4 linked regions of the Homo sapiens genome follow. The protein of the gene in region 1 interacts with the protein of each later gene in a biochemical or structural test. Each region holds a gene or a part of one and is shown in the gene's direction. Other genes may lie near its edges. The genes, in order: SGK1, ASPG, MAPKAP1 and NDRG1.

Region 1 (7,600 bases):
GGCATGGTGACACGCACCTGTAATCTCAGCTACTCGGGAGGCAGAGGTGGAATGATCGCTTGAGCCCAGGAGGTTGAGGCTGCAGTGAGTCATGATCACACCACTGCATTCCAGCCTGGGTGACAGAGAGAGACCCTTTCTCAAAAAAGCAAATAAAATAAAATTAAAAAGGGTCTTTTGCATGTACAAAAACAAACCCATAATCCCCAGCAGGGTTTCCTAATTCTTCATTAAATACATCACTACCACTGTGGCTGGAGTTTTAAGCATATGATCGAGTCACTCAGGCCAAAAAGGAATGTAAAACATTTCTCATGAGGTGATGTATTTTTATCCCTTTCTCCTTAGGGACATTTGTCACTAAACAGATACTTTATTGTTTGTTATCTTTTGTGTATTCTGGGGTGCTATCGAAAAAAATTACATTCCATTCAACAACTAAATGTATCACACAAAAACACTTTAATCTATGGGAAGATAGACTTTCTAAAAAGTATTACAGTGGCATATGCCTCTTGCTTTAGTGAAACAAAGAAATGTAGAGTTATTTATTACTTTGCAAAACCCTTTCAAATATAATTTGGTACTGACAATTCCTTTAGGAGGTAGGTGAAGAAGCATTTTATTATTATTATTTTACAGATGAAGAAACTGAGGCTTAGTGCGTTGAGGGAACTTGTTGAAGGTTGCACAATTAGGGAATGGAAGTGAGGTAGAAGATGTTCCAAATCAATACAGCAGTCTTTCCACCGCAGGTACATATTGGTAGTTAGTCCTACCTAGCTACTTTATTTTATTCTTTGTGTGACAGCCTAAACAATATTGTTGGGAGGAAAAGTAGGTATACCACAAAAAAATCAAATAGAGGTTCAAGGGATTCTTTTTGTTTGTTTGTTTATTTATTTATTTATTTTGAGAGAGTCTTGCTCTGTTGCCCAGGCTAAAGTGCAGTGGAACAACCATGTCTCACTGCAGCCTCAACTTCCCAGGGTCAAGCAATCCTTCCACCTAAGCCTCCTAAACAGCTGGACCACAGGCATGCATCACCACACCACCTATTTTTTTTCCTTTTTGTAGAAATGGGGCTTTGCTATGTTGCCAGGCTGGTCTCAAACTCCTGGGCTCAAGTTATCCTCCTACCTCGGCCTCCCAAATTGTTGGCATTATAGGCATGAGCCACTGTGCCTGGCCCAAGGGATTATTTTTAACATTGGGATTTTCCATCAAAAAGAAGTGTCATCCCAGGGCTACAGTGTCATTGAGGCTTAAAGAGGAAATGGTGAGGAGTGAGGTCGTTTGCTCTTACTGGAGCTCAGCATATTGGCTATCATGGGAGAGAGCTTAATGACTGAAGAATCTTAAAGGTATTTAATGATTCCTGCAAATGGTCTGGTGCCAGGGTCACTGATGTCAGCTATACTTACTTTTGTATTTAATTCGTTTGAAAACCATTTGTTGAGTGCTAGCATGGCCCAGGCACTCCGCTGTGTGCTGGTGCTACAAAAATAAATAAGTGTGTTTTATGGGAACAAGAAGTGAGTTAATTAATTAAATTAAGTTTGATTTATAAACAAGATGTTGCATGAGTCCAGAGTTTTTTTTTTTATTATTATAAGCAGGAGCCTGTGCTCCTTTATAGGTATCAACAGTGGACCTGTCAAAGGAAACATTTAGTAAACAGTAGTCACTCTGGGCTTACCTGAGGGCAGCTTTACTTATGAAAATAGAGGTCAGAGTGAGATGAAAGATGCCTTCTTTTCCTGAATAACCAACACAGTGCAGTTAATGCATTTCTCTATTATTGCACCAATCAAAAGATAATCCAAAATAATTGGCTGTCAGATATAGTCAGAATCCCTGCCCTATACTTCTCTTCCTTCATCTGACTGACCTACTCATTCTTTAAGGCCATGCACTAACATCATCCCTTTAGGTAAATTTCCTGGACCTCTCTTACCCATCCAGCCCCACCCTTCCCCCCTCCAAATTAAGGCAGGGTTGATGCATACACACCACACACACACACACACACACACACACACACACACACACAGAGTAGTACACTCTTATCCATGGGGGATACATTCCAAGACCCCCCCCATGGATGCGTGAAACTTCAGATAGTACCAAACTCCATATACATTATGTTTTTTCCTGTACATACATACCTATAATAAAGTTTAATTTATAAATCAAGCACAGTAAGAGATTAACAACAATAGTAGAATAATTTTAACAATGTACGATAATAAAAATGATGTGACTGTGGTCTCTCTCTGTGTCTCTAAAAGTATCGTATTGTACTCACTGATTTTCAGACCATTGTTGACCTTAGGTAACTGAAACTGTGGAAGGTAAAACCTCAGATAAGGGAGGACTACTGTATATAGTATTCTTACCACACTGTATATTTCTCTACTAGGCTGTGAGTTCCTTGGTGACAAAAACCAGTGACACTTACATGCACTGGACCTTCCATAGGATCTAGCATAGACCAAGTGACAGTGGCAGCATCTTCAAGAGGTGGCATGGAGTGAGGGAAAAGATAGCATTTAGCTTGTCTTCTCCTCCCTCATAATCTCTATTAACCACCCGCCTGCACCCCAAATGAACATACATCCTACATGAAACCAGGGTATTAGTCCGTTCTCACACTGCTAATAAAGACATAGTGAGATGGGTAATTTATACAGGAAAGAGGTTTAATTGACTCACAGTTCAGCATGGCTGGGGAGGCCTCAGGAAACTTACAATCAGAGCAGAAGGGGAAGCAAACACATTCTTCTTCACATGGCATCAGGAAGGGGAAGTGCTGAGCAAAAGGGAGAAAAGCCCCTTATAAAACCATCAGATCTCATGAGAAATCACTCACTGTGGGAACTACAATTCAAGACGAGATTTGGGTGGGGACACAGCCAAATGATATCAACCAGTATGCATGCTAGGCCAATGTGGGATTAAGCAAAGCCCCAGCACCTCCTTCCTAGCAGAGTGCTTAAAGGTCCCCTCCTGTATATTACTCAAATTCAATAAATGTCTGTTAAAACACTTTTGGGGGAGTGGCAATGGGACGAAAAAGAAAGAACTTGAATGACCATCATTTTTTAAAATGAGGTCCATTGAGGTATAATTTACATGCAGCAAAAGTTTCCCTTTTCCTATATAAAATTTGATGAGTTCTGACAAATGCATAGTTATGTAACCACCACCATCATCATGATAGAGAACACTTCCATCGTCTCAAAATAATTCCCTTTGAACTACCATAATTTTAAATGAACTCTTTAGAAGAACCACAAAAACTTATCAATGTTGTAGATTACATAACATATACTTGCATCTTGGACAACTTAACATATCTCTCCAAAATGAATAGTTGTTTTCCCTTGGTTATCATGCCATCATTTAGTTGTATTGCATTTTCTTTTTGGAAACCTCAAGGCATTTAGCAAACAGGATTTCATGTTTATTCCCAAAAACTCTGGCCCAACTGTAGAGATTTATAGTCCAATTCAATGAAACCCATGCATTTCTTTCCCAGTTTAACCTGATGTTTCTCTTCTTACCAGAGACTTCCATGTAAATACTTTAACAATGTTAGGTGTGTTATATATAATGAGGTCATAATCAGTTTCAAATTAGCATTGCGCCTTTCACTTATTTATCAATTATATTCCCTTGTGATGATTATGAAAAGGCTCCACATCCTGAGGACACTTGTCAGAGTTAGATTTATTAATGGAATGAAATAGCAAATAATGAATGACTAAATAAATGAATGAGTGAATGAATGAATGAGTGGCTGCCTCCATTTTATGGATGAGGCAGTGTCCGAAAGGCACAGTGAGGTCAGGTGATGGCAGAAAGCCACACACCGATGTTGGTGGCTTTCTGCCAGGTCAGATGCCAAGTTTATTTTCTTTGCTTTCTTGCTTTACTATCAACTAATCTTTAAAATCATTCCCATAAAATATCAACATTAAAGAATAAAAATGGAAAAATAAGCCACATACAATTAAATGGCTTTTTTAAAAGGAGCTCAGTGTGCAAAGGATAACATGAGTAAGGATTTTTTGGGAAATTTTTCACCTAATAGGAAGAATGCTTTACTCTTTTATTTATCAAACCTTCCTCATCATTAAATGGATTCAGTAGTACTTTTTGGTAATAACTCGTGTGTGTGTGTATGTGTGTAATAAAGTACTTTGTATATGTTCATTGTGTTCTTTTTTTAATAAGCTGTTTTAATGAAAAAGACACAATTACCGTCACCATTGCCCACTATATAATGACAAGTAGGGGAGGGGAGGCTAAAAGAGCTTCTACATAGTGAGAGATCTTCCATTGTTATACCTACGCTTGCACTTTATTTCATTTTCTTCCACGTTTGGACAGGTCGAGATTAAATGTGATTACATTTCCGTTGAGAGGCTTTTATTCAGCAACAGGATTCAAAAGAATGTCAATGAGCATAAAATAAAAACGGTGTGCAATTTATATGAAACTCTGATTTAAATGGTCCTAACCAAAAAAAAAAAAAAAGAAAGAAAGAAAAGAAGCTATTTAAAGTAACCCTCCCAAGGGGAGTCAACTGCTCTTCAGTGTGCCCTGAGCCGGCTGTGCCTTCTCTCCATCCGCTGCTCAGATATTCATGAACCGTTGCTTCTTCCAGCCTCGCCTTCTCGCTCCCTCTGCCTTTCTGGCGCTGTTCTCCCTCCCTCCCTCTGGCTTCTGCTCTTTCTTACTCCTTCTCTCAGCTGCTTAACTACAGCTCCCACTGGAACTTGCACAATCAAAAACAACTCTCCTCTCTCAAGCCGCCTCCAGGAGCGCATCACCTGGAGAAGAGCGACTCGCTCCCCGCGCCGGCCGCGGAAGAGCAGCCAGGTAGCTGGGGGCGGGGAGGCGTACCCTTCTCCCGCTCGGTAAGAGCCACAGCATCTCCCCGGAGATTGGCCGTATCCCACCGTCCGGCCCCCAGGGTCCTGCAGCGGTGATGCATATGTTTCGGAGCAATGATGGAAGGAGAAAAGCCGCTGTCGGTGGCAACTGAAAGTGGGGAGAGGTTGCTGCAGTAGCTGGTGCTGCAGAATGCGCGAGTGAAGAACTGAGCCCCGCTAGATTCTCCATCCCGCTCAGTCTTCATTAACTGTCTGCAGGAGGTAAACCGGGGAAACAGATATGCACTAACCAGGCGGGTGCCAACCTGGATCTATAACTGTGAATTCCCCACGGTGGAAAATGGTAAACAAAGACATGAATGGATTCCCAGTCAAGAAATGCTCAGCCTTCCAATTTTTTAAGAAGCGGGTAAGGACAGGTTTTGCTTATTTCTTTTGTTTTCTGTGCTTCTCTTAAATGCTTTTGAATGTTTGCCTGAAGTAAGCCTGAGGTTTTGTTGCTAAACCCTTAATGTAAGCCGTGCTTCTGATGGCAGTGGTAAAGCTGAGAACTATACCTGACTTGATTAGAATTTGTTGGAGGAGGGGCAGGGGGCTATGAAGAGTTGCATTGGGAGGAGGGGGTTGGGCTGAGATGCCTTAAACGGGTTTGAGCTGGGAATGGGGATTTTTCTCTCTCAAGCCACAACAAAGATTACAAGGCAGTCGCAAAGAGAACTGGCTTGAGTACAATTATGGCTAGTAATTTAGTCAGGGGCTAATTTAGCAGCTTCCTCTCATCTTTGAAGGGTTCAACTTTTCTACACCTTTCATCCACTCAGTCTCAAGTGATGCATTATCATCTTCGTTCGTCAGAAGCAGCAGCTTCTGGTTTCCCAAATCCATTCAGCCAATAATTTGCTGTGTCTCTATCTGTGGTATAAATAGCAAAGGAGTAGAATGACCTTTTACAGAAATGATGGAATCCAGCATTTAAAATTGTCTATTTTAAGTTGCCTCAATTTTTGCTTTTGCTTAGAATAACTGCCTTTTTTTTTTTTTTTTTTTTTTTTTTTTTGGGAGAGAGCAGTGGGAGGTCTGTATTTGAGTGATAATTCAGGGTTATGTTGCTGTATGCATTTATTTCTTAAACTCCTTATTCTTCAACTCAAAGTATGAATAATGTTGCATTGGTTGTAGGTGAGAAAAAAGGATTTTTTTGCATGTATATTTCACAATAAACTCAGTTCACTGGGATGGCCACACTGGTGGTCTGTGTAAATCTGCAAATTTATACACAAGCGGGAGGTAAGAAATGAATGATTGTTAAAGGAATGACACTGACACTCTTAAGGACAGTGTTTCCTAAGCAACGTAAGAGAAGGAACATCCTCCAGTCCCCAGTTGCCCCATCCTATTTAATACCCTAGGGCAATTCCACCAAAATGGTTCTCTCCATTCATTCCTCCTTCCTTTCATTCAGGTCCTTTCTGTGCCACTCCTGAAACACAGCCCTTCAGTTAACTCATCCGCAGAACACAGTGAATTTCAGGGTGGGCTGGACTATCTCCCTGCACCAAATGGGCAAGCTGGGAAGGCAAGGCTAGAAATGCAGGCAACATGTCAGGCCCAGCTAGAGGGCCAGCGAAGGCTCCCAAGCACCCTTGACTGAGTTCTCATCAGTAAAGCAAAATCTTTCTCCAAGTCTGTGGGCCAAAGCATATGCATTCAAACCAAAATGAAACCAACCTGTCCTGGCCCCTGCTCTTGGAGTGGGAGTACCATGTGAAATCTCACTAGTGAGCTGCAAGCTAAGTGAAAGCAAGTCAGTGCAACTTCACAGAGCTCCACAAGGCTTCTTAGTTTTTCTCTGTAGCTAAAATATTTCTTTCCAAGGGAAGAGCCCTTTATGAAAATTAATTTTCTTTCTTTCTTTTTCTTTTTTTTAGAGACGGGGTCTTGCTATATTGCCCAGGGTGGTCTTGACCTTTTGGGCTCAAGTGGTCCTCCTGCCTCAGCCTCCCAAATTGCTGGGATTACAGATGTCCACCACCAGGCCCAGCCCTAATTTTCAATAATAAACAAATGTTTTGCTAATTTTAAAAATGCCATAGCCCATTATCCAGTATTTAAACTCTATTGCCTTTTAATTACTGTATTTATTTCATGGTATTGGGGATATTCTAAAACTCCTCAGTCAGATGTTCTTAAGCAATGTAGATTTAAGTTACATAAATTTTAAATTGTCTTTTATTTTCTTTGTTATCAAAATGTACTAATAGAAATACTAATTTGCCATTTGGTTTTGTTTTGCTTAAAAGCAAGTTTACCAATAGACTTCAGTTGGTGACTCTGCAGACCTTGAATTTTGCAGAGAACCACCCAGGGTACTGATGTCTTATCTGAGTACATGCAGAAAGAAGTTTCTACCAAGATAACTGGCAGGCAGCTTCATCTAACTTCTAACCTGGGTCTATCAGTTGCTGGAGACAGGATCAGACATCTCTCCTGCCCCTGCGCTCTCCTTACTCCTCAAGGACAGTTAACTAAGTAGAAGGTGACCTTGTATCAAGTCATTGAATGCCCCAGGGATAAATTCTTTGATTTTTGTCTACTTTGGTTTATTCCACAAATTCTGTATTCTAAATGTTTATTTCTGCTTGTACATGACTTTGCTTTTTTTGTTTGTTTGTTTTTAGTTAAACAATATGTAAATACAT
Region 2 (7,020 bases), on another chromosome or scaffold:
CCGGGCCTGTGGCATCAGCCTCCCACCCCCACCCACATGGAGCGGGAAAGTCGGCAGAACCCTGGGGGCTCAATTGCTGCCAGAGTGGCGGCCTTCAGCTCGAGGACAAGCATGTCCTCTGGGGAGCCCCTCTGCATGGACGGGTTCAAGGGGCACTGACCCCAAATAGCCATCCCTCCCCACTTCACCTGGGGCCTGCACCTCCACCATCACCCACCCTGGGTGTGGGGAGGGGGTGATGGGCACACATTAGGATTTTGGGGTGAACTGGATGGAGGCCTTCTCTCCCCAGAGGTGAGGGGTCCGAAAGTCCATTTGTTCGCTCATTCAACCACTGACCCGGTGGGCAGTGGGCACAGTGGGTGCCTGGCAAGGGGCAGAGGAGGCTGGCTGGTTCGACGATGCTGCCCCATGCCTGTAACCCAGCGCAGTGACTGCTGGTGGCTCCCCAGCTGGGCATGCCTGCCCTCCTCGCCTCTGCGCTCGCCTGACGCCCCCATGCGGCCTGCAAGACACAGCCGGGCCTCCATCTCTGCAGGACCCTCCTGCCCCTCGCCTGGCCAGCGGAGTTTCCCTGGGCTTCACCCTTGAGACTGTGTTGCCCATTGCTCGGCCATCGGTCTCTCGCTGGCCAACGAGTGCCTCCTCCCACAGCCCCGTGCACGCTGCGGAGCCTGGCACAGGCCGGACTGCGCGGAAGCCCGGGAGGATTTGCCTGCGGGAGAGGAGGCAGGGCGAGGGGGCTGAGCCGCGAAGGCTCAGGGCTCTGAAAACAAGGGAGGAGGCGGCCTGTGCAGAGGGCCAGGCACTGGGCTGGGGTCTCGGCTGGCAGGAGGCCTGAAGGCACCACACAGGCCCTTCCCTGTCCTCAGTCAACAGGGAGCTGGTGCGGAAGGTGGACGGGAAGGCTGGGCTGGTGGTGCACAGCAGCATGGAGCAGGACGTGGGCCTGCTGCGCCTCTACCCTGGGATCCCTGCCGCCCTGGTAGGGACCGCCCCGGCCATCCTGCCCCTGCAGCCCTGAGCCCCAGCCCTCTGCAGCTCCCACGGCCCTCAGGCTCCCTGGGGCCCTCACCAGCCAGTGCAGACCCCGCGTGGACCTGAGATGTCTGCAGTGTGGCCCCACCAGCCCCAGGCCCTGTCCCCTGTCCTCCGTCGTGGTGCTTTCCAGCCTCTCGGGGAGTGGGCAGGGTTGGGGCGCGGCTCACAGCCAGAACGGGGTCCTCCATGCTTTTCTAGAGGCAGCGTCCTCCCGCAGATTCCAGCTGGCTGGGAGCCGCCCCTGCTGTGCTGGACAAGGGTGTTTGCTCTGGGGCCTCTGATGGCCTTCTTGGCTCCTCTCCCACCTCTCTGAAGTGTTTCCACGGCGTTCTGCCACACAAAGCCTTCGTCCCTACAGACAGGGCGACCCTTTGGGAGAATGTGGGGGGAGCAGCCCCCTCCAGGTGCCAGCAGCCATGCACGTCTGCCAGGAGCCCCACTGTCCCGGGAGCAGAGCAGGCACCAGCTGCCCCTGGCTTGGGGTCCCTCTCCTTGGGAGGGCATGGGGCGAGTCTCAGTGGTGCTGAGGGCAGAGACCCTCACCATCCAGCCCCCACCCCACCGCCCCACAGGTTCGGGCCTTCTTGCAGCCTCCCCTGAAGGGCGTGGTCATGGAGACCTTCGGTTCAGGGAACGGACCCACCAAGCCCGACCTGCTGCAGGAGCTGCGGGTGGCCACCGAGCGCGGCCTGGTCATCGTCAACTGTACCCACTGCCTCCAGGGGGCTGTGACCACAGACTATGCAGCTGGCATGGTAGTGCCGGGAGATCAGGGCCTAGCGGGGAAGGGGACAGCCTGAGGGCCTGGCAGAGGTGGGCTCTGACCCACCCCTCATGGGCTGGGGGCCGTGGTGAGTCGCCCTTCCTGCCCACACGCCCCCTCCTCACAGGCCATGGCGGGAGCCGGCGTCATCTCAGGCTTCGACATGACATCGGAGGCCGCCCTGGCCAAGCTATCGTATGTGCTGGGCCAGCCAGGGCTGAGCCTGGATGTCAGGAAGGAGGTGCGGGCGCTCTCGGGCTGTGGGCAACCCTCGGTGTGCACAAGCATGTCAGTTGGCTCCCAGGGGCATGTCTGGGGCGATGCCGGAAGAGCCTGGGGGCCGGTCCAGGGTGTGTCCTGTTTGGGAAGGGGAGGGATGTGGCTCCCTATAGTGGGGAAGGGCAGCTCTGGGCCCAGGCTCCCCACAGCCCTCACTGGACTCCCAGCCCAGGCTCCGCCTGTCCTTGTGCCTTCTCAGACTGCATGGAGACCTGAGGCTCCCCTAACTGTCGCCAGGAAATCCTCTCCTGCTCTCCACTCTTCCTCGAGGGTGGGGTTCAGACACAGCTGGCCCCAGACCCTTGGGTTGCCAGCCTCTGGGGCTGGACGGAGGCTTTTGGGGCCCCTGGAGACCCTGAGCTGGTAGGGCCAGGGAGTGGGGCTGGCCTTGGGAGGGGACCCAGCCCGCTCTGGCCCGAGGGATGAAGCACACACGGCCGAGGCTCAGGCCAAGGGCAACCCCTGACTGTGCCCGGGTAGCCCGACCCTCCAGGCTGTCCTGGGCTGCCCATCCAGCCCTGGCAGAGCCACTTCACCTCTGTTCTCTCCACCAGCTGCTGACCAAGGACCTTCGGGGGGAGATGACGCCACCCTCGGTGGAAGAGCGCCGGCCCTCACTGCAGGGCAACACGCTGGGCGGTGGGGTCTCCTGGCTCCTCAGTCTGAGCGGCAGCCAGGTAATGGCGTGGGACACGGGCCTGAGTGGCAGCTGGGGACTGTGCACCCTCTTGGTCACCCTGGGATGCACCAGGCAGGCACGAGCCCCTGTAGCCATCACTCGAGCCCAAACAGTTAGGCACACCCGGGTTCTGGGGCCCAGGAGGAGGGTTTGGGGTCTGCAGCAAGGAAGGTTTGCAGGGTCTATAAGGCAGGAGGCAGGAAGGGCCAGGCGGTGGGCACACAGCAGGGAGGCCTTCTGACTGGCGGCGCTGCCTTAGTGCGGGGCTGCCTCGGGAGCTGCCTGTCCAGAAGAAGGGCGGGTGAGTGGGGGCGGTGCTTGCTCTGGGCTCTCCCAGGCTCTGAGCACCAGGGGTTCCAGGTGAGGAACCCGGAGGTGAGGGCCAGCCTTTGAGCACGTCCCCTGCACAACTGAGGTGCCCAGACCTAGGAAGGGGGGCTTTCGAGGCCTGGGGTCTGCAGGGGGATGGGGCCTCCCTGGACCCCGCAACATGCCCCCTTGGCTGCTGGGCCAAACATCCAGGCCTGACATGGGGCCTGGCAGGCCAGACAGCCTTGCTCCCCACTGTGTGGGGTCCTGCCCCGGCCTCAGTGCCTCGGTTTCCCCCTACAGGGATGGACCTGTCTTGTGAGCCATGTGCTGGAACTGCCACTTGCTGGGGCGGGTGATGGGCAGATGGAAAGGACTGGCGTGCATGGCCTGTTATTAGGGTGGCTGCATAGGGCCTGAATGCTGTAGGGAGGCAGGCCAGAGGCAGCAGCCTTGTCACCAGGCCACGTTGTACCCGCTGGGTGTGGTGGCACCTGTGGGGCCTCTGCCAGGACCGCTGGGTGTGGTGGCCCCTGTGGGGCCTCTGCCAGGACCGCGGCCTTTTGGCGTCTTGGGGAGCTCCTGGTGCCCGGTGCTGGGGGCAGGTGGCTCTTCTGGGAAGGTGCAGCCGTGGGAACAGGGCCTTCCTTCCAGGGGAGGGGTCTGGCTCTGCTTCCCACGCTCTCCTTATGTGGGTGACCATTCCGTCCCGACGGCGGTGGGAGCAGACGGGGGAGTCTGGGAGGGTGGGTAGCAGGTACTGGCCACACACCCGTTGGGGACAGGGCTGGATGGTGGTCTCGTGGCCTGGCCTTAGCTCCAGGGGAAGGGGTCCTAGGTGGGCCTGGATGGGGTGGGGTGGTGAGGCTCAACCCCAGGCCTTCCGATGTGGCAGCTCAGGTTCCTTCTCACCCACGCCCTGGGATCTGCGGGCCCTTGTGTGGGGGCTGGCAGGGGTCATACAGCACCGGGGACTGCCAGTTCCACCAGATGCCAAAGGGAGGCGTGGGTCCCAGGGTGCCGCCTTCCCCACCTAGGAGGCAGATGCCCTGCGGAATGCCCTGGTGCCCAGCCTGGCCTGTGCTGCTGCCCACGCCGGTGACGTGGAGGCGCTGCAGGCGCTTGTGGAGCTGGTGAGCCTCCCCCACCCTGGGGGCCCAGCCCCAGCCACGCCTGGCCTGGGGGCTCTGAACCCTGTAGGCAGGACGGCCTTTCATCCACCCACTGACCACACTAAGCCCTTGTCAGCCAGACTGGGCAGCAGGACTGTCCTGCCAGCTTGTCAGGTCTCACTGAGGCTTTGAGGGTGGGCGCAGGGGCTGTGCTGGGCCCTACCCTCAGAGGGACCCCACCCTCCCCATGGCCTACCTGGCCCCGCCTGGGTCTCCCTCAGGGGTCGCATGTCCTTGTGTTACTCCAGGGCAGTGACCTGGGCCTGGTGGACTTTAACGGCCAAACCCCACTGCACGCGGCCGCCCGGGGAGGCCACACAGAGGCAGTCACCATGCTGCTGCAGAGAGGTGTGGACGTGAACACCCGGGACACGGATGGCTTCAGCCCGCTGCTGCTGGCCGTGCGGGGCAGGTAATGGAGCTAGGGCTGCACAGAGCTGCCTTGGACAGGTGGGCGCAGAGAGGCTGTGGGCTCCTGCACTCAAACAGCCTCCCGGGGCTGGGCTGGGAGAGGTGGAGGACACCTGCTTCCTAAAGGCTGCCCCCGCAGCCCGGGGCCCAGTAAGACCCCGGCCCAGAGTTCCTAGAAAACAAAAATGTTGTGGACAAAGCTGGGAGGACACGGTGCATCTCTGTGCACCTGTGGGTATGGGGGGCTGGGGTGGAGGTGGGGCAGAAGGTCCTGGCCCAGCAGCCAGACGCGGTCAATAAAAAGCAGGCTACGTGGCAGCAGATCTGGGGCTGTGACAGGCAACTCGGGCCCTGGAGGACAGGCCCAGCCTGTGCGTGTGGGGGTCCCCTGCCCCACCAAGCAAGCCCTGGCTGGTGTCTCTTCCCAAAGTCCAGAGCAGCAGCAGAGACGGAGTGTGTGCCTGTGCCCCTGCGTGGGGGGCGGGGCCAGCACTGGTGGGATCTGCGTCCCGTCTCCCCTTCCTACTCTTTATTGCCCCAGCCTGGGAAGGCCAACGACCTGTCTGCTGGTGCCGCTGCCCGGACCCATGGGCTGCTCAGAGATCCCAGGGCCCCTGGGGATTCCTCCCTGTGGGTGGGAGGACTTGGCCTGCAGGACCCTGGGTTCTTTTCGGGGAGGGAGTGCTCAGGAGTCCCATGGAGAGAAGGCCGGGGTGTCTGAGCCTGGGGTCATGTGACCCTGACGTGTTCAGTTGTGGGTTCCCCTCCCCAGCGGTGAAGCGGTGAGCCCTGGGGTGGGGTGTGGCACCTTTTGTGAAGTGGGTGACTGGGGTAGAAGGTTCTTTCCAGCCTCCTGTGATCATTGACAGGGTGCTCAAAAGAATAGGAGAGAACAGGGTGGTGGACAGGAGGGGGCGGGGCTGTGAGGGTCCCCCCGAGCAGGGCTGGGGTGATCCGGACTGGAGCTTCTAGACTGGGCGTCCTTGGGTGTGGGTGGGTGGCGCGGAGACGAGCTCACACAGTCCCGCCCCCTCGTCTCCTCCTGACTCACAGGACCAGGCTCACAGCACGCCCCCAACCGGTCTCCCAGCCTCGCTCCGCTGCCAGGCTCCCTGAGGCCGCCTGCCTGGCCCTGCTGTGCCTGAGTGGGGTATGGGGAGGCCACTGCCTCATACCTATTCCCAGGCTCCCTAAATGGGGTGATGGGGGGATCTGTGGTGCTTTGCAGGGGTGGGGGCACGGCCAGCGATTATGGCACAGTCTTTAGGTCACCCTGTACAATGGGCTGTGTGGCCTCCGGCCTCGGGCCTTTGTGCCTCTGCTCCTCCTTGCTAGAGCCCCGACCCCACCCCCACAGACTCCACTGTCCGGGTGCCCTGCCCCCACTCCTACCCAAGGGCAGTCGGCCGGATTGATTCAGTGTCCCCTGCGCCTGGCTGAGGAGGTCACCACGGGGTGTGATCAGCGTTTGGGTGTGCAGTGGGGCCGGTCAGCTCATGTAAGGCTGTCCTCTGAAATGGGCTGTCCCCTTGGAATGGGTTGGGGAGACTGCCCTGGGAGGAGCTATTCTGCTAGCACCAACTAATGCCCTCCCCTGGGTGCTGGGTGCGGGGCTGCCACAGAGTTGACCCCACCCCTTGCAGACCTCAGCTGCCCTAAGAAGGAGTACTGGACAAATGGAGGTGGTGGGATCCCGGGATGATGTCACATGGGCCTAGGCAGAGGATGGGGGGATGGGCCCTTGTCTGAGGCTAGGGCTGTGGGGTCTTGGGCCGGCCGGTCCCCGTCCCTGTGCACAGGACATGAGCTCTGCTGGCTCCTGAGTGAGGTGCAGCGGGGCTGGGCTGGCCAGGGCAGAAGGTCAGCATGCTCATTCTCACACAGGCATCCGGGTGTCATTGGGTTGCTGCGGGAAGCCGGGGCCTCCCTGTCCACCCAGGAGCTGGAGGAAGCAGGGACGGAGCTGTGCAGGTGAGTGCAGCTAGAGCACCTGCTCTTCCAGGGATGTGGGGGACACAGCTTGGGGAAGCGAAGCCAGACCTGCTGGGAGGGACAAGTGAGTCAGGGTGTGGGGGCTTTCAGAGGCGAGGCCCGCTGACCTCAGTGTGCACCAACCTGGCTGATGGGAAGAGGTGTCTACCCTGGACCATGTCATGGGGCAGGGGAAGGAGTTGTTCTCAGCTGAGCGAACAGTCCAGCAAGGGTGTCTCTGTGTGCACATGTGTGCATGTGTGTATGCATGTGTGTGGGTGCATGTGTGTGTGTGTGGTGGGCTTGAGGAGGGGTATGGGAATTGGTTGTCGGGTGTGAGAGGGGCTGGGGTGTGGACTGGGGGGTGGCTGGGGCTGCATTTGGGGAGGTTGGGG
Region 3 (7,752 bases), on another chromosome or scaffold:
CCCCAAAATGAATTGGAGTTTGCTGAGTGGAAAGGCAAACAACAATTGAGGCTTGAGGGGCTGTGAGGAAACTGAATGTGTGAAGGGACCTGATCCTTACTGCCCATCTTGGCGTGCCGGGCCAGAAGAGCTGGCATTTATGCAACACCTCCTGTATACCAGGCACTGTTCTAGTTACTCTCTCTGCAGTACCTCATGGAATTCTCACAACAACCTAGATGAGAAAACAGACACAAGAAAGGCAAGTAACTTGTTGAAGGCCACACAGGTAGTAGGTGTTTTTTTTGTTTTTGTTTTTGTTTTGTTTTATTTTGATTTTTTTGAGACAGAGTCTCGCTCTGTCGCCCAGGTTGGAGTGCAGTGGCATGATCTCGGCTCACTGCAAGCTCCGCCTCCCAGGTTCACACCATTCTCCTGCCTCAGCCTCCCCAGTAGCTGGGACTATAGGTGCCTGCCACCTCGTCTGGCTAATTTTTTGTATTTTTAGTAGAGACGGAGTTTAACCGTGTTAGCCAGGATGGTCTCAATCTCCTGACCTCATGATCCGCCCGCCTTGGCCTCCCAAAGCGTTGGGATTAGAGGCAGGAGCCACCACGCCCGGCCCGGTAGTAGGTGTTTTTGAACTTCTGCCCACTGACCCTCTCTAGTCCCGGGAACCAGAAGAAAAAGAACCTCCACCCCCTAACATGGCTTCCTTTCCAAGCTGGAGATGAAGGCTGTGAAGCCTGATTGTCATAGGTATGCCCAGGTACCTGTCCCGCTGCCCTGATGTCTATGGGAGTCCCCTAGCCAGCCCCTGGCCCAGCACCATCAGTGTGCTGTAAAAATGTTATTTTTGTGGCCGGGTGTGGTGGCTCACGCCTGTAATCCTTGCACTTTGGGAGGCAGAGGCAGGCAGACCACAAGGTCAAGAGATCGAGACCAACCTGGCCAACATGGTGAAACCCCGTCTCTACTAAAAATAGAAAAATTTGCCGGGTATGGTGGCGGGCACCTGTAGTCCCAGCTATTCGGGAGGCTGGGACAGGAGAATGGCTTGAACCTGGGAGGCGGAGGTTACAGTGAGCTGAGATCGTGCCACTGCACTCTAGCCTGGCGACAGAGCGAGACTTCATCTCAAAAAAAAAAAAAAAATTTGTATGTGTGTTAGCTCTCATGGTCCTACCACTGTACACCCCAGGTCAGGAGACAGGTCAATGTATGCTTTAATGACACTTCCACCAATACAACTCCTGCTTCTTGGAGGCTCATGCCATCCAATTAGTTTCTCCTCTCTCCTCCTCATCTACCTCCCCAGTGCTGTTCCTCAGTTGCAGATGCCATGGGGAGCACGTCTGGTTTCCTTTTCACCCCATGTCTGTCCACCATCTTGGGATGGACGTTCACAAGGATCTCAGTTCCTTGACTATCTCATCTTCAGTGATTTTCCCCCCATTCCACTTTAGCTGGGACCCCCTCTCACATGGCTCCTCCTCTGAGGTTATTTGTTGAAACATCCATCTGTGACAATAACCTCCATCCTTCTGCTTTCCTTCATCAGTGACTTCCATTACATCTATTTGAGACCTTTAGGCCAGTGATACCTGTTTTTCTGGAATTCTCTTGCTTCCCTATCCAGCATACTTTCTATGGCTCATTGTTTTAAGCACTCTTAAAAGCTGATATGACCCCATCACACCTGTCTGGCAAAATCCTTCCTTGGATCAATCCAACTTCTCATTCTTTGGGTGTGTGTATCGTGACTGCTCCAACTAGCTATAGAATAATCACACTAGCCATCATATTAGTATCACCATACATTTAGTCTCCATTCTCAACTGGGCCCTCAATACTGTCCTTGAAATCCTACCATATATCACTGCATGCCAACTTACCACAGTAACTACAGTATTTCAAACCCATAGTCGAACTTGACTACAAGGCTTCTTAAGGGTAGGGTCCCCGTCTGGCTTTTTCACCACTGAATCTCAATAGGCACTCAATAAGTATTGCTTACTGACTGAGGTATACTCATACTGGTAGGCATTAGTAAATAATAGTCACATGCCAGGCTCTGTTATATGTAAGCTACATGTATTAGGTCATTCTATCCTTGCAACAAACTAATGAGGTTATGTAGGACTTCTGTCATTCCCATTTTCCAGGTAAAGATAAGAATATTTAGAGAAGCAACTTGGAGAGATGAAGTCACAAAACTTGTAAGTGGCAGAGTGAGTATTCACTTTTTATTTTTCTAATTTTTTTTTCAAGACAGGGCATTGCTCTTTCATCCAGGCTGGAGTGCAGTGGCATGATCACGTCTCACTGCAGCCTTGACCTCCCAGGGCTCAAGCAATCATCCCATCTCAGCCTCCCAAGCAGCTAGGACTACAGGCATTCACCACCACACCTGGCTAAAAAAAATATATGTGTATATGTGTGTGTATATATATATTTTTTTATTTTTTATTTTTTTGAGACAGACTCTCACTCTGTTGTCCAGGCTGGGCTGCAGTGGTGTGCTCACTGCAACCTTCACCTCCCAGGTTCAAGCGATTCTCCTGCCTCAGCCTCTCAAGTAGCTGGGACTACAGGTGTGTGCCACATGCCTGGCTAATTTTTCGTATTTTTTTTTTTTTTTTTTTAGTAGAGACAGGGTTTCACCATGTTAAGACAGGATGGTCTTGATCTTCTGACCTTGTGATCCGCACCCCTTGGCCTCCCAAAGTGCTGGGATTACAGGCATGAGCCACCGTGCCCGGCCTATATAGAGATAAATTTTTTAAGGTAGTGATGGGGTCTCACCATGTTGCCTAGGCTGGTCTTGAACTCCTGGGCTCAGATGATCTTCCTGCCTTGGTCTCTCAAAGTGCTAGGAAATATTTACTCTTTAGAATCTATAACTGCTTAGCAGTTTTAGATAGGTCGAGTTTTATGTGTCTAGGAGACAGTCAGGCAGCTGTGCTTCAGATTGGAACTCGAGAGAGAGAGAGAGGAAAATGGAGAGTAAGATTTAGGAAGGAACAGATAACCTGGTGACCTCAGAAAATCAAATATCCAAACTTGTTCACACCTGCTGCTTTGTTAGAGTGCCTCTGACAGGTCCCTGATGGAACTGTGGTGGTGTGTGTGCAAGAGTGTGTCTGGGTGCTGAGGTGCACTATTCCCCCAGTATAGATATGTGGTAAGATACCAATTACATAAAGTAATGGGATGTAGTAAGAGATCAATCACATATGGTCATGCGTGGAATGAGGATGTTTTGGTCAATGACAGAGTGCATATGATGGTGGTCCCCTAAGATTATAACATGGTCTTTTAATTGTACCTTTTCTGCATTTAGAGATGTTTAGATACACAAATACCATTGTGTTAGAATTGCCTACAGTATATGGTACAGTAACATGCTGTACAGGTGTGCAGCCTAGAAGCAATAGGCTAATACCAAACAGCCTAGGTGTGTAGTAGGCTCTGACATTGTGTAAGTACAGTCTATGATGTTTACACAACCACAAAATCAGCTAACGATGCATTTCTTGTGTCCTCATCATTAAGTGATGGATGACCATATTTGAAATACATGGGTAGACCCACCGTGTTTTTTGTTTTTTTGTTTTGAGACAGAGTCTCTGTCACCCAGGCTGGAGTGCAGTGGCCTGATCTTGGGTCACTGCAACCTCTGCCTCCCGGGTTCAAGCCATTCTCCTGCCTCAGTCTCCTGAGTAGCTGGGACTACAGGTGCACACCACCACGCCAGACTAATTTTTGTATTTTTAGTAGAGACAGGGTTTCACCATGTTGGCCAGGCTGGTCTCGAACTCCTGATCTCAAGTGATCTGCCCTCCTCGGCCTCCCAAAGTGCTGGGATTACAGGTGTGAGCCACCGTGCCTGGCCCCATGGCATATTTATTAATAAGTTTAAAATTGGGCAGGGGTCCCTCAGGGCTGAAATTCAACCTTGAGTTTTTTCTTTTGCTAAGGTGCGTTTTTGAGAGACTTCCCCAAGCATCTTTCAGGTGGGAGAACCACTCTCACTGCACTCCCTGAATCCTTTTTCCCCCTTCATCGTGGCTTTCTCTACTGATTTCCTCCGTGAGAGAGGAAGGGAGCAGCATGAGACACACTGAACTTCTGCCCTGTGCCAGTCCTCCTACATCTCCTGGAAACCTCCCAGCAGGGCTTGAGGAAGATTATTGTCACCTCCATATTACAGATATTATAATAAGAGAAATAACTAACATTGACTGCATGTTTACTATGTGTCAGGCACTATGCTGGGTGTTTTTCAAGCATCATCCCATTCGATTCCCACAGCAATATACTCTAAAGTTGAAACTATTGCCCTGGATGGGAAAACCCGAGGCTCAGAGAGAAGTGTCACATCCTAGGACACACAGCAAGTTATAAGAGCTGGCATTTGAACCCAGGTCTTTCTCAGAGAGGCTGAGCTGCCTCATCACTCATTTCTGGACGAACTAAGGGCTTTTCTCCGTGGAAATGGGGAGAAAGAAGATTCGATGGAGAAGCCTAACACTGATTCCTGCTCAAGGCAAGTCCAGGCACTGGCGCATCTTGCCAGAACTCAGTCTCCGACCCAGGCCTTTCCCTGCACTGGAGAAGCGGCGCGCATGCGCCCGGCCTCCCTCCCGGCCCCGCCCCGCGGGAAGCTACCGCTCCTTGCTTTCAGCTCTGGGGCTTGCGCACTACGTCCCCAGCCAGAGGCTCCTTCCCGGTCGGGGACTTCCGGAACGCCGGGGTGTGGTTCCGGGTCGTGTGCGGCTCGGGGTAATAGGGCTGCTGCTCGGCCGGCCGGCGGCGGCGAGCAGCAGGGGCATGAGGGCTAACCCGGGAAGCGGCAGCTGAGCGGGCCGGGAGGAGCGCCGGTCCCCGTGGATCCCGAGAGTGCAGAGCTCGGGGCAGGGGCCGGGAGGCGTGGGGGAGCCGGGCCCTCCCCTCAGGAACGTGTCCCGGGGCCGACCCGGCCCGTAGTGTGGAAGCAGCTTCAGGTAAAGGTTGCCCCAGCCGCCAGCTCCCCGCCCGTCCGTCAGCCCACCAGCTTGCCCACCTGGCGGCCCTCTCACCCCTCCAGTTTCAGCGCTGCCCGGCGGGCCGCCTGCCGGGCCCTTGTTCAGGTGGCCCGGGCGCGTTCGTTTCCTGGCCATTTCCAGAACTGGAGGCTGTCAGGAGTCTGAGGCGGGTGTGTGGTTTAGGGGAAAAGAAGCCAGCTGACCTGGTAGTGTGGGGGTGGGGGGTGTAGTTGACTCCGGCAGTTTCTGGGCCTGCACTTGGCAATATCTAGGTGCCCTGGTCTTCATAATGTGAAAATCAAGGTTTTCAAGCATTGACTGTGTGGTCCTTGTTTCCTTGCGTCCCTTCTCCCCCTCCCCCTTAAAGAGGTTAACAGCCTTACAGACTTTTTTCTAGCTACAGTGCTGCTGGAACTTTGATTCATTCTTTGTTTATGGGAGTGGCAAGGAGTCATTTAGATTTGTTTAAGGCTGGGAAAAAGAGATTGTAGCGTAAACAAGATTATGACTTTAACCAGAGACCCCCAAATTGACTCAGAAATTGGTTAAAACTTCCTTTTGAATGAATGAAAGTCACTTTGGAAGCCCACCACAGTACCTGGCACTGTACAAAGCACCATGTTGTTATAAACCCAAATCGGCAAAGTTCAAAACTTTCCCAGGTGTGAAGAGTCAAATGGAGACCCATTGGTTTAAAAAAAGCAGCGTTCTCATTCTCTGACAAGCAGGAGAGGTGGATCCGTAATGTTAAAACCCACTTGAGCAGAAGCCTAGATATGGGTTTTATTCCTTATATTTTATGAGCCCACACAAGGTACCTAGTAAACACGGAAAGAGTTCTTGATGAAGCAATAATTGTTTTCATGTTTTTCAGTTTACACACCTGCGGGATTTGGGGCATGCTGGTAGCCCTTTCCCATTCATCTGTGTGCTCATGCCTACCTTCAACTACTGTGTGTCCCAGACTGCACTTACACCCCCTTACATCTCCTAATCTGGCTCCTGGTTACCTTTCCAGTTATGCTTGAAAAGGTCTCCTTCTTTAATTACCCCATCCTGATCCATTACTCTGAATAAGTAGGATCTCTAATCATTTTTGTTCTTTCCTATTCCATTGATTTTTGTAGAACATTCTCCCTACCTTGCCTAGGTTTCCCCTTTTCTCTTTCAGTCTATTGAGACGCTTCCCACGGCTCAGCTGAGTTGGCCTCACCCAACCAATTCAGGACAACCCCACCTGGAAATGATTTTTCCTCTAGAATTCTATAAGCGCTCATTTTTATCTACAATTATTTAACTTAGCAAATGTTTACTGAATATGGATATGTATATATATGCCAGGTACCATGCTAGGCAATTAGAGATAAATATAAGATTCAGTCTTTGCTGCCAGGGAGCTCAATTTAGTGAAAGAGAGATAAGGGAAATGAATAATTCTAACACCGTGATAAGTACATTGTGTGAGAGTTCTTGTGACAGTGGTAGGTGCGGGAGGGGAATGGGTTATTCACCTTTGAGGGATGGGATGTGGCCAGGTAATGCTTCATAATTTGAGGTAAACTAAACTTTGAGTATTTGGGTATTATATAGGGGTTTCTATTGTTTAATCATTTTAACCTCAATTTACAGATTAGGAAGACCCATAATAAATTACACAGCTGGTAGGAGACAGAGCCAGGATTCAAACCCAGGTCTGTCTGATGCCTAAATCTGTGCTTTTTCCATTACATGTCTTGCCTTTTTCTCACATCATCTCCCTCTTTTTATGCAAGTACATATTGAAACCAAAAGTTATATAGGACAAAACATATGAATGTTAAAATGAATGGTACAGAAATCTTTTAAATGTAAAGACTGTGCTCTTCCAAGGCAAGGAGATGGCAGGTAGGTTAGTTAGCTCAGCTTTGAATATGAGCAGAGAAGACAGTCTATAGAAAATAGGCATGGACTCTGGATTCAATTCCTGGTCCCTGTTCTTACAGGATATGTGACCTTCGACACATAACTCCAAGCATCACTTTCTTCAACTAGGGGTTGGGTTAGGGAATAATATTGACCACATGGAGTGTTGTGAATATTTATTGAACTAATGGGGATAAAGGGCCTGGTACGTGGTAAAGTCCCCCGAAATAAATAGCTATAAGATACAAAGGTATAATGCTTGAGGCATGGTTTTAGACTGGTGAGTGAGTTTACAGCCTGAGTCATGCAAGTCATTGCTTCTTTTAGCAGGGTACAAGGACGTAAAGTTGGAGGGGCGGTAGGGGTCAGAGTCAGTGAGGGCTTGAGTACCAGGCAAGGGAGGTAAATTCCAGTTTCTGCTAATAACTTTTCCAGTTAATAAATACTTCGAGGATCTACGATTCATTTCAGCAGTGCCAAGCAAAATGTTAGACCTTGGGGATACAAAAAGAAGTAAAATTGGGTCCCTATCCTGAGGTTATTGACATTCTAGTAGAGGAGATGTCTGTGTGTGTGCAGGTGAACCATAATAAAGTACTGTGGGTTCTAAGGTAGAAGTCCCCAGGAGGTACCATAGAACACTGAGAAGGAAACACTGATGATGGTAGGTAATGAGTACTTACTCTGCTGGTGTGATGTTAAATGCTTTATCTCATTTTTTTCTCGTGTGAGAAGGTGTTATTAGCATCCTGATTTTACAGATGAGGAAACTGGGGCACAGAGACCTTGAATAACTTCCTTGAGTTTATGCTGCTGGTAGAGCTGTAAGATAGAGGGGATTATC
Region 4 (7,020 bases), on another chromosome or scaffold:
GCCATATGGCTCAGGTGGGAGAGCCAGACTTTGAACCCGGACAGTTGGACTTCAGAGCCTTTGTTTTTTTTCCATGACAACATGTTGGGGCGCCTGAAGAAATCAGGCTCAAATGAAAAGGCAGTCAGGAGCTCCATGCCTCAGTTTGCTTTTCTGTAAAATGAGAGTAACAGACATGATGCCATCAGAATGTGTAAATATTAATCTGTGTAACCTGAGAACAGCACTGAGCATGTGGAAAACAGCGTGTAGGTGTTTGCCGTCAGTAGCACCCGCAGAAGACATTCTCAAGGCATCTTCTTGGCAGGCAGAGTCTGGGACCCTTTGTCCTAAACCTACCCAAGGCTGTGAAAGTGCCTGCAAATGCTTGACCTAGGTATTGCTTTTTGCTAAGCTTATGTAGGTTGCATAATAGTGTCATGAAAATCTTGTCTGAAATGCACATTTCCAGGCCCGGTCTCCTGCGATTCTCTCTCCATCAGGGGATATGCTGTTGTTTCAAAGCTCCTTTGGCTGGGTTGGGAATGGGGTATCCTGCAGGCAGACAGAGTTGAGAACCTCTGCTCTGGAATGACAGGGGAGAGAAGAAGGAAGGTGTAGTCATACATGCCGCTGTACCTTCAGGCCACCCTGTGTCCACAGTGCCAGGGAATTAGTGAGTGCTCAGTAAATAGCTCTTGTTTGCTATAGTGCCTTGGAGGTTCAATGCATCACATCAGCTAACTGAGGTAGAAGACATTCTTTCCACCTCTCAGGTCAGAAAATTGAGGCTCAGGCTGGTGACTCTTCTGTCCAGAGTCCAGTGAGTGGGGTTCTGCCCAAGGTGAGCCTCCTGAGCCCTTTCCACCCTCCAACATTGCGCTTGGAGGCCACCCACACCCTCTGGGCCCACCTTTTGAGAAGGAGCTTGTTTCCTGGATCCACCCCAGGCTGTTGTTCCTGCCTCCCTTGATGGCTGTGTGATGGAAGTACCGCGTGTCCACTTGCTTTTTATCTTTCAACTTGGAGATAGAGGCAGGCTAGATAGCGGTCTTGGCTGAGAACTTAGCCCAGGCAGGTAGGCAGAAGGGCTGGGGACACTGAGGCCCCACAGGAAGGCGGCTGCAGAGGTAGAGGGCCATGAGTAGGTGCCAACCTGGAGCCGTGTTCTCGGGGTGGGGGCCATGTGAAAAGAAACCTGGGCTCCCTCGGGTGGGGCGTAAGCCCCAGCACTACAGAATGGGAATGGATTACACAATCGGGGCCATAAGCAGGTCTCTTTGACCCAGATCTTTGACTTTCCCACCTAACATTGTTTGCAGACCTGCCTATGCCCTACCTGCCTGGGCTCCATCTCTGACCTTTTGAGTCCAGCGGGTTTTCTTGCAACTGAGCTGGTAGAAAGTGAGGCTCCTTAACAGTCTGGGGGCCTTGAGTGCCCTCCCCAGCAGTTTAATCTTTCCTTTCTTTAAATCTGTGGGGAGACTTTCTGCAGCTATACATTTTAAATCTGCATAGAGTTCTGTTTGAAGAGAGGTGGGTGGGGGCCCAGGTCTCCACCTTGTTCTCCTGCCTTCACCCTCTGCCCCACCCCCACGGAACCTAAGAAGATTCCAAGTAACCCTCTTCAAATATGGATGTGAGAGGGCCATTTAAGAGGTGGGTCTATGGCCTCTCTCAGCTGGGAATGCTTACCATCTCTCCTTCCTCCTTTTTAATCATGGAACTCTCCTCCTTTCTCCAGAAAGGCCTCCTTGGCTGTCCTCTGCTGGAGGGGAGGCTGGGTTGGGTCCTTCCTGGGACCTGTCCATGTCTCCCATGAAACCTGAGAGCCTGTCCTTAGTAGGTGTTGTGTTAGTGGTGGTGGAAAGGACATCTCCACTGATTAAGGAAGTAACTTGGACCATCTTGCATAGACAAGATCGGAGGCCCATTCCGGAGGGTGGAAACTGCAAGACCATTCTGGGGAAGGATCCTGTTAGCGTGGCTAGCATCCCATCTCGGGACAAAGGGTTCTGTATGAGGAAGCCATTTCCTCGTCCTCTGCTAACACTGGCTCCGTTTGTGTGATTTCCACAAATTATCTCAGACCATCCAGCGCAGCTCATGCCTGTCTTGCAATTTCACAAAATAATCCTCTAAGGAGACCAGTGTCCTCCTTTGGACTTCCAGTTATTCACCTCGTCCCCTCAGACGGTCGTCTTCTGTCTGCCAAACAAATTACTCGTGCTGCCAAAACTCCACTGAGAATCTCCAGGAAGATCTCGGTTGTATTGCAGAAAAGAGGTGGGCCCTGACGAGATTCCTGACACCTCCCTCTTCCTGCTGTTGTGTTTGGGACACTCTTGCTGACCTCCCTGGTGCTGTGCTCAAGTTGAACACACAGCAGTTCAGTTTCAGCTCCAGCCCCTCTGGACCCACACCCAGGGAGTGAATGCGGCTTTGGCTTGTTTGAGAGGGAGACAGTGGGGTTCACCTTCTTAGTGATCCCTTTTTCATTCCTTGAATATCAAACATCACTGATGCCTCCTGGGTTTCAGGCTCCACTGCAAAGTACAGGGGCCCTCGAGGAGTTCCTACTGTGGTTTTGTTCTCTGACATTTGTACTGTTTCCTTGATTCTGATTGCTCTGATACAGTTCCCTAACCTCTAAACTAGGGAACTTTCTTGAAGGTCCAGTGAATCCACCCATATTGTTTGCTGAGTTGATTAGTTAAGAAAGACAGTTCGTGAAGACTGCCAACTTCCTCACCCTCCCCAGGGCCTTGAGTTTCAGAAGGGCCAGAAAACACCAAGAGAGCCCATGAACTGCTTTGTAGCTTGACTTCAAAATCTCTTTGGGCAAAGAAATGACAAAGGATTGTATCCACAGTAAGGCAGGGCTATCCAGGGCCTATCTCAAGGTGGTTTTCCTTGAGGTTCAGGCAGAAATGGTGCTGTTCTCGGCAATTTTCTGGGGAAGTTGCTACAGCAAACAGCCACAGCACATGTTGATTTTTTCCCTCCTTTTAAAAATCTGTTCTATAAAGAGCACAATGTGCTGGAGAGAACACTGGCTTTCATGTGGCCTTAAAACCAGGCATGTTACAGAGGGTGGAATCTGGGCCAGTTGCTGTTGGTGACAATCGATGCTACCCTTGTCAGCAATTCCCGCCTGCTCTCCCTTTATCTGCTTCACTGAAGGCCTCCAGGGGACTGTTGTCCGCCCTCCCCCGAGGGAATGAGTGCCACACCTGCACCCACAACAAACCAGTGAGTTTTTCACCTTTCCCTCAGTAGGGAGGAATCTAGACATGTGGCCTTTGGAAGTCAAGTGGGCCTTTGTGTTTGTTTTTGAGCCTCAGGTTACCCATTTGTGAACTGGGTATAATACCCAGCCTCTCCCGGGGCAACCTCCTTGAGGAGCAAGTGAAACAGTGTGCTGAGTGAATGCTTTTCCAAAGCATTGAGTTGGCCGTCTTAGGAAGGTACTATGGGGGAGCTGAAAACAGAGAACCTTCTGGGTGTTGTGAAGGGAGAAAAGTTCAAGATGCTGGTTTTGCCAAAAGCTCAAGCCTGCTCATGATGGCTCAGTGGTGACTGCAGGGTGGAGGAGAGGCATGTGACTGTCCCAGCTGACCTCCACACGCTGAAAGCCTCATGGTCACGTGCAGCCCACCTTACAACGTTGTATCTGGGCCACGGGTGGTGGTGAGGACTGTGGATATATTTAGGGCAATGTGAGATCATTGTCAACATTCCCTTTAAGGTTGCTTTAACCTTAAAGCAGCCAGCTTGATGCTTGCTGACTTGGGGCACACATCTTAACCTCTTGATGCCTCAGTTTCCCCGTCTGTTAAATGGTGACATGCTGGCACCTCCCTCCTAGGGTTTCTGTGAGGCTTAAAGGAAGTACCGGGTTTAGAGTCCAGTTAGTGCCACAGATACTGTTCCTGGTGCTGTTTTTGTGGTGTGTCTGTGTAGGGTTACATTGTTGCCTTCCTGTGGCTGCTCTTCCTGGTGGGCGGAACCTGGAACTTCTAGAACAGATCATGGATGTTTCTCTGCTGGATACCCCTTCAGCCTCACCCTGTGGGAGTTGTGGCGGGGCCCAGGAGAGTTTGCTCAAGAGGGTGTGCAGGTGGGTGGCAGAGCTGGAGCAAGGCACTAGTCTTAACAGACAGGAGTCTGAGGCTGGCAGAAGTGGGGGCCTTGGTCCAAGGTGCGGGGCTAATCTGGCCAGAGCTGAGCCTGGCAGGGCCTTGGTAAGACCCTGTGGCCCTTTTGTCTTGGTGAAGCACCTTCCTGCCTGGGTTTCCATTTGCCTGTAAGTTTGTTGTGGACAGCGTGATCTCCATAGACGTACACTGTGCCTACTTTACAGATGGAGAAACCAAGGCCCAGAGAGGAAGTGACTTGCTCAGAGTCATGGAATAGGAAAGTGGCAGGGTCCCCATGCCCTGATTCCTAGGCCAGCGTTCCTGCTGCCCCACTGAGGTTTTTGGGAATCACAGGCTCTGTGTGTCCCCCTCAGTCCCCCAGGGGCTGTTGAACAGTTCTCAAGTGGTGTCGGATTACTGAAGATGCCTCTGCCCACTGCCCTCCCAGGTCCCAGGGTCACGGGTCACGTTCTTTTCTTCCTCGGGCAGATCCTGGCCTTGGCTTTGCCTGGCACCTGTGATCCAGCTCTCCTCTGACTCTCCTGGGTCTGCTGGACTGGAAGGGTATTTGTGTAGCCCCTCTTGGGCCCTCATTACTCATTGACAGACAGTGCTGGTGGAGAGAAGGGCCCCAGTGGTGACGCACTGGGCCTGATAATCAGAAACCTTGGTGGCATTTGCTGAGCATTTTCCATGTGTCCCTCTCCTCGCTGGGACTCTAGGACTGAAACCCAGGCCACATCCTCACAGATGTCCTGGCATCTCCAAGGCAACCCTGAAAGGAAAGTATGTTGATGAATTAAGCAACTGTTTGCTTAATTCTCCATGCCATTCTTGAATTTAAGCCCCACTGCTGATCATTGGGAGCAGGAGTTAGCATGCCCATTGACAGACAAGCAAACTGAGGCAAAGAGGTTAGATAGCCAGGCATGGTGGCATATGCCTGTAATCTCAGCTACTCAGGAGGCCGGAGTAGGAGGATCACTTGAACCCAGGAGTTTGAGACCAGTCTGGGCAACATAGCAAGACCCTGTCTCTCTAAAAAACAAGATGAATAATACATTTTTAAAAAGAGATTCGATAAATTATGCAGGATCACAGAGCTAATAAATGGTGACACCATGGCCTGCAAGCCTTCCCCCAGCTCCTGGCTACCTTTCGCTTCTCTGGCATTGGTCTTCTCGGAATTCCTCCCAGGCAGGTGGATGGGAAAAGAAGTGAAGATACAGGCTGGCAGCTGGTGCTGTGACCTGGAGCCCTGTTTTTGGTGCTAAGCTGGGTTTTAGCTGAAGGAGACCTGCTGGAGGGGTTTCTTCTGTGCTTCTTGGGGAGCAAAGATGGCCTTGGAGATGGAGACACGGTTTGTCAGTCCCAAGCCACTCCAAAGGTGGGGCTGGTGGGCTAGGAGTCAGCCCTGGTTCCCCCGCCATGCTGTGTGTGGCCCTGCCTTGCCACCCCACCTGCTGGAGGACCTCTTTGATGCTTTCTAGTGGGTCCCAACATTCTGTGATTAGGACTTTGCATGAGGCAGAGGGAGGGCAGGAGCTGGAGTCCAGCAAGGACCTCAAGCCCAGGGACAGGCTCCACCTGCCACACTTGCTAAGCCGTGAGGGCCTCAGGTGCCCGGGAGGAGGGAGCAGGAGTGGAAGCACCAGCTCGAGCCGCCAAACCAGGTCACGTATCACCTGCCATTTCCTGCTGGCAGAAGGAGATCACAGACACCAGAAGACAGCAGCTTCTGCCAGAACTGGGTCCTTCCATGATTCTCAGGTGGTGACTTTGAATCCCAGAAAAAGTGTTTTGGGGAGAGTGGAGTGAAGGAAGAGTGTGAACATTGGATCTGACTCCACTCCAGCCCCTGTGCTGCAGCCAGCAGGGTGAGCTCAGGACAGCTGGCAGCCGCTTGGGCCCAGCCCCCTCCTCCGTGAATGAAGGTGGTGGGGAGTGCACGTGTGCGTGTGAGTGCGTGTGAGTATAAATGACTGTGGATGTGAGAGTCCATGAAAGTGAGAATGTATCAGTGTGTAAGAAAGTGTGAGTATGTGAGAATGAGTGTGTTTGTGAGAATGTATGTATGTGTGAGTATAAGTGTGTGAATGTGAGAATGTCTGAGTGTGAGAATGAAAGTTTGCAAGTGTGTCAGTGTGAGGGAATGTGTGAGTGCATTTGAGAGTGTGTGTGTGTGTGTGTGCGTGTGTGCACGCATGCACTAGATTAAATAAGAATGCATCCAACTGACATTTTCTGGATACTGTTACCTACTAGGAATTACTAAAATCAGCTATTCCAGAGGAGGGTGGATGTCGCACCAGGGGACATTTGGCAACGTTTGCAGATTCTTTTGCTGGTCGCAGCGTGGGGTGTATGCTGTGGGCATGTGGTGGGCAGAGGCCAGGGATGCTGCTGAGCCTCCTCCCGTGCTCAGGGCAGCCCCTAAGGCAGAGGCTGCTTGTGGGGCCCAAATGTCAGCAGTGCTGAGCTGAGGATCTCTGTCCAGGAGGCACAGACGCTGTCCTGGATGCTGTCCAGACAGCATCTGCTCTGCCCTCCAGGGGGACAGACAGACAGTGGACACAGCCCAGATGCAGCCTGATGAGTGAGCCCAAGGGAGTGCCTGTCCCCTCGGGACTGTGAGCTCCGTGGGGGCAGGAACTGGGTCTGTTTGCTCATGATCCCCAGATGAGTCCCATAGCCAGTCTCATCACCATAGCTGGTGTTATTTTTGTTCTGAGCTCTGTGTTGGGCACATAGAACCTAGTGGGTAGAAACCTCTGAATAAATCCTGAGTTTTCCATCCTGCTTCCGTGAACTCAGATGTTCTTTGAGGGCCAGCCTGGTGGCGTGGGGGCTGGGAGTGGGCAGATTGTAGGGAGCCAAGTCCTGGGGTGGAGTGGGGTTCAGG

The links.
Region 2: the proteins of SGK1 (region 1) and ASPG form a complex in vitro, tested with the Homo sapiens proteins (one study listed by BioGRID).
Region 3: the proteins of SGK1 (region 1) and MAPKAP1 form a complex in vitro, tested with the Homo sapiens proteins (one study listed by BioGRID).
Region 4: of the proteins of SGK1 (region 1) and NDRG1, one has a biochemical effect on the other in vitro, tested with the Homo sapiens proteins (one study listed by BioGRID).

The regions. Positions count from the first base shown.
Region 1 is NC_000006.12:134,315,102-134,322,701, reverse strand, and holds the start of SGK1 (serine/threonine-protein kinase Sgk1), read left to right. Parts: upstream 1-4,589; 5' UTR 4,590-5,241; coding exon 5,242-5,310; intron 5,311-7,600. UniProt on the Homo sapiens protein: Serine/threonine-protein kinase which is involved in the regulation of a wide variety of ion channels, membrane transporters, cellular enzymes, transcription factors, neuronal excitability, cell growth, proliferation, survival, migration and apoptosis.
Region 2 is NC_000014.9:104,102,691-104,109,710, forward strand, and holds part of ASPG (60 kDa lysophospholipase), read left to right. Parts: intron 1-872; coding exon 873-985; intron 986-1,613; coding exon 1,614-1,796; intron 1,797-1,931; coding exon 1,932-2,045; intron 2,046-2,637; coding exon 2,638-2,760; intron 2,761-4,108; coding exon 4,109-4,204; intron 4,205-4,491; coding exon 4,492-4,655; intron 4,656-5,707; coding exon of another isoform or gene 5,708-5,804; intron 5,805-6,011; coding exon of another isoform or gene 6,012-6,152; intron 6,153-6,538; coding exon 6,539-6,625; intron 6,626-7,020. UniProt on the Homo sapiens protein: Exhibits lysophospholipase, transacylase, PAF acetylhydrolase and asparaginase activities.
Region 3 is NC_000009.12:125,704,204-125,711,955, reverse strand, and holds the start of MAPKAP1 (target of rapamycin complex 2 subunit MAPKAP1), read left to right. Parts: upstream 1-4,747; 5' UTR 4,748-4,985; intron 4,986-7,752. UniProt on the Homo sapiens protein: Component of the mechanistic target of rapamycin complex 2 (mTORC2), which transduces signals from growth factors to pathways involved in proliferation, cytoskeletal organization, lipogenesis and anabolic output.
Region 4 is NC_000008.11:133,287,235-133,294,254, reverse strand, and holds part of NDRG1 (protein NDRG1), read left to right. Parts: intron 1-7,020. UniProt on the Homo sapiens protein: Stress-responsive protein involved in hormone responses, cell growth, and differentiation. Acts as a tumor suppressor in many cell types. Necessary but not sufficient for p53/TP53-mediated caspase activation and apoptosis.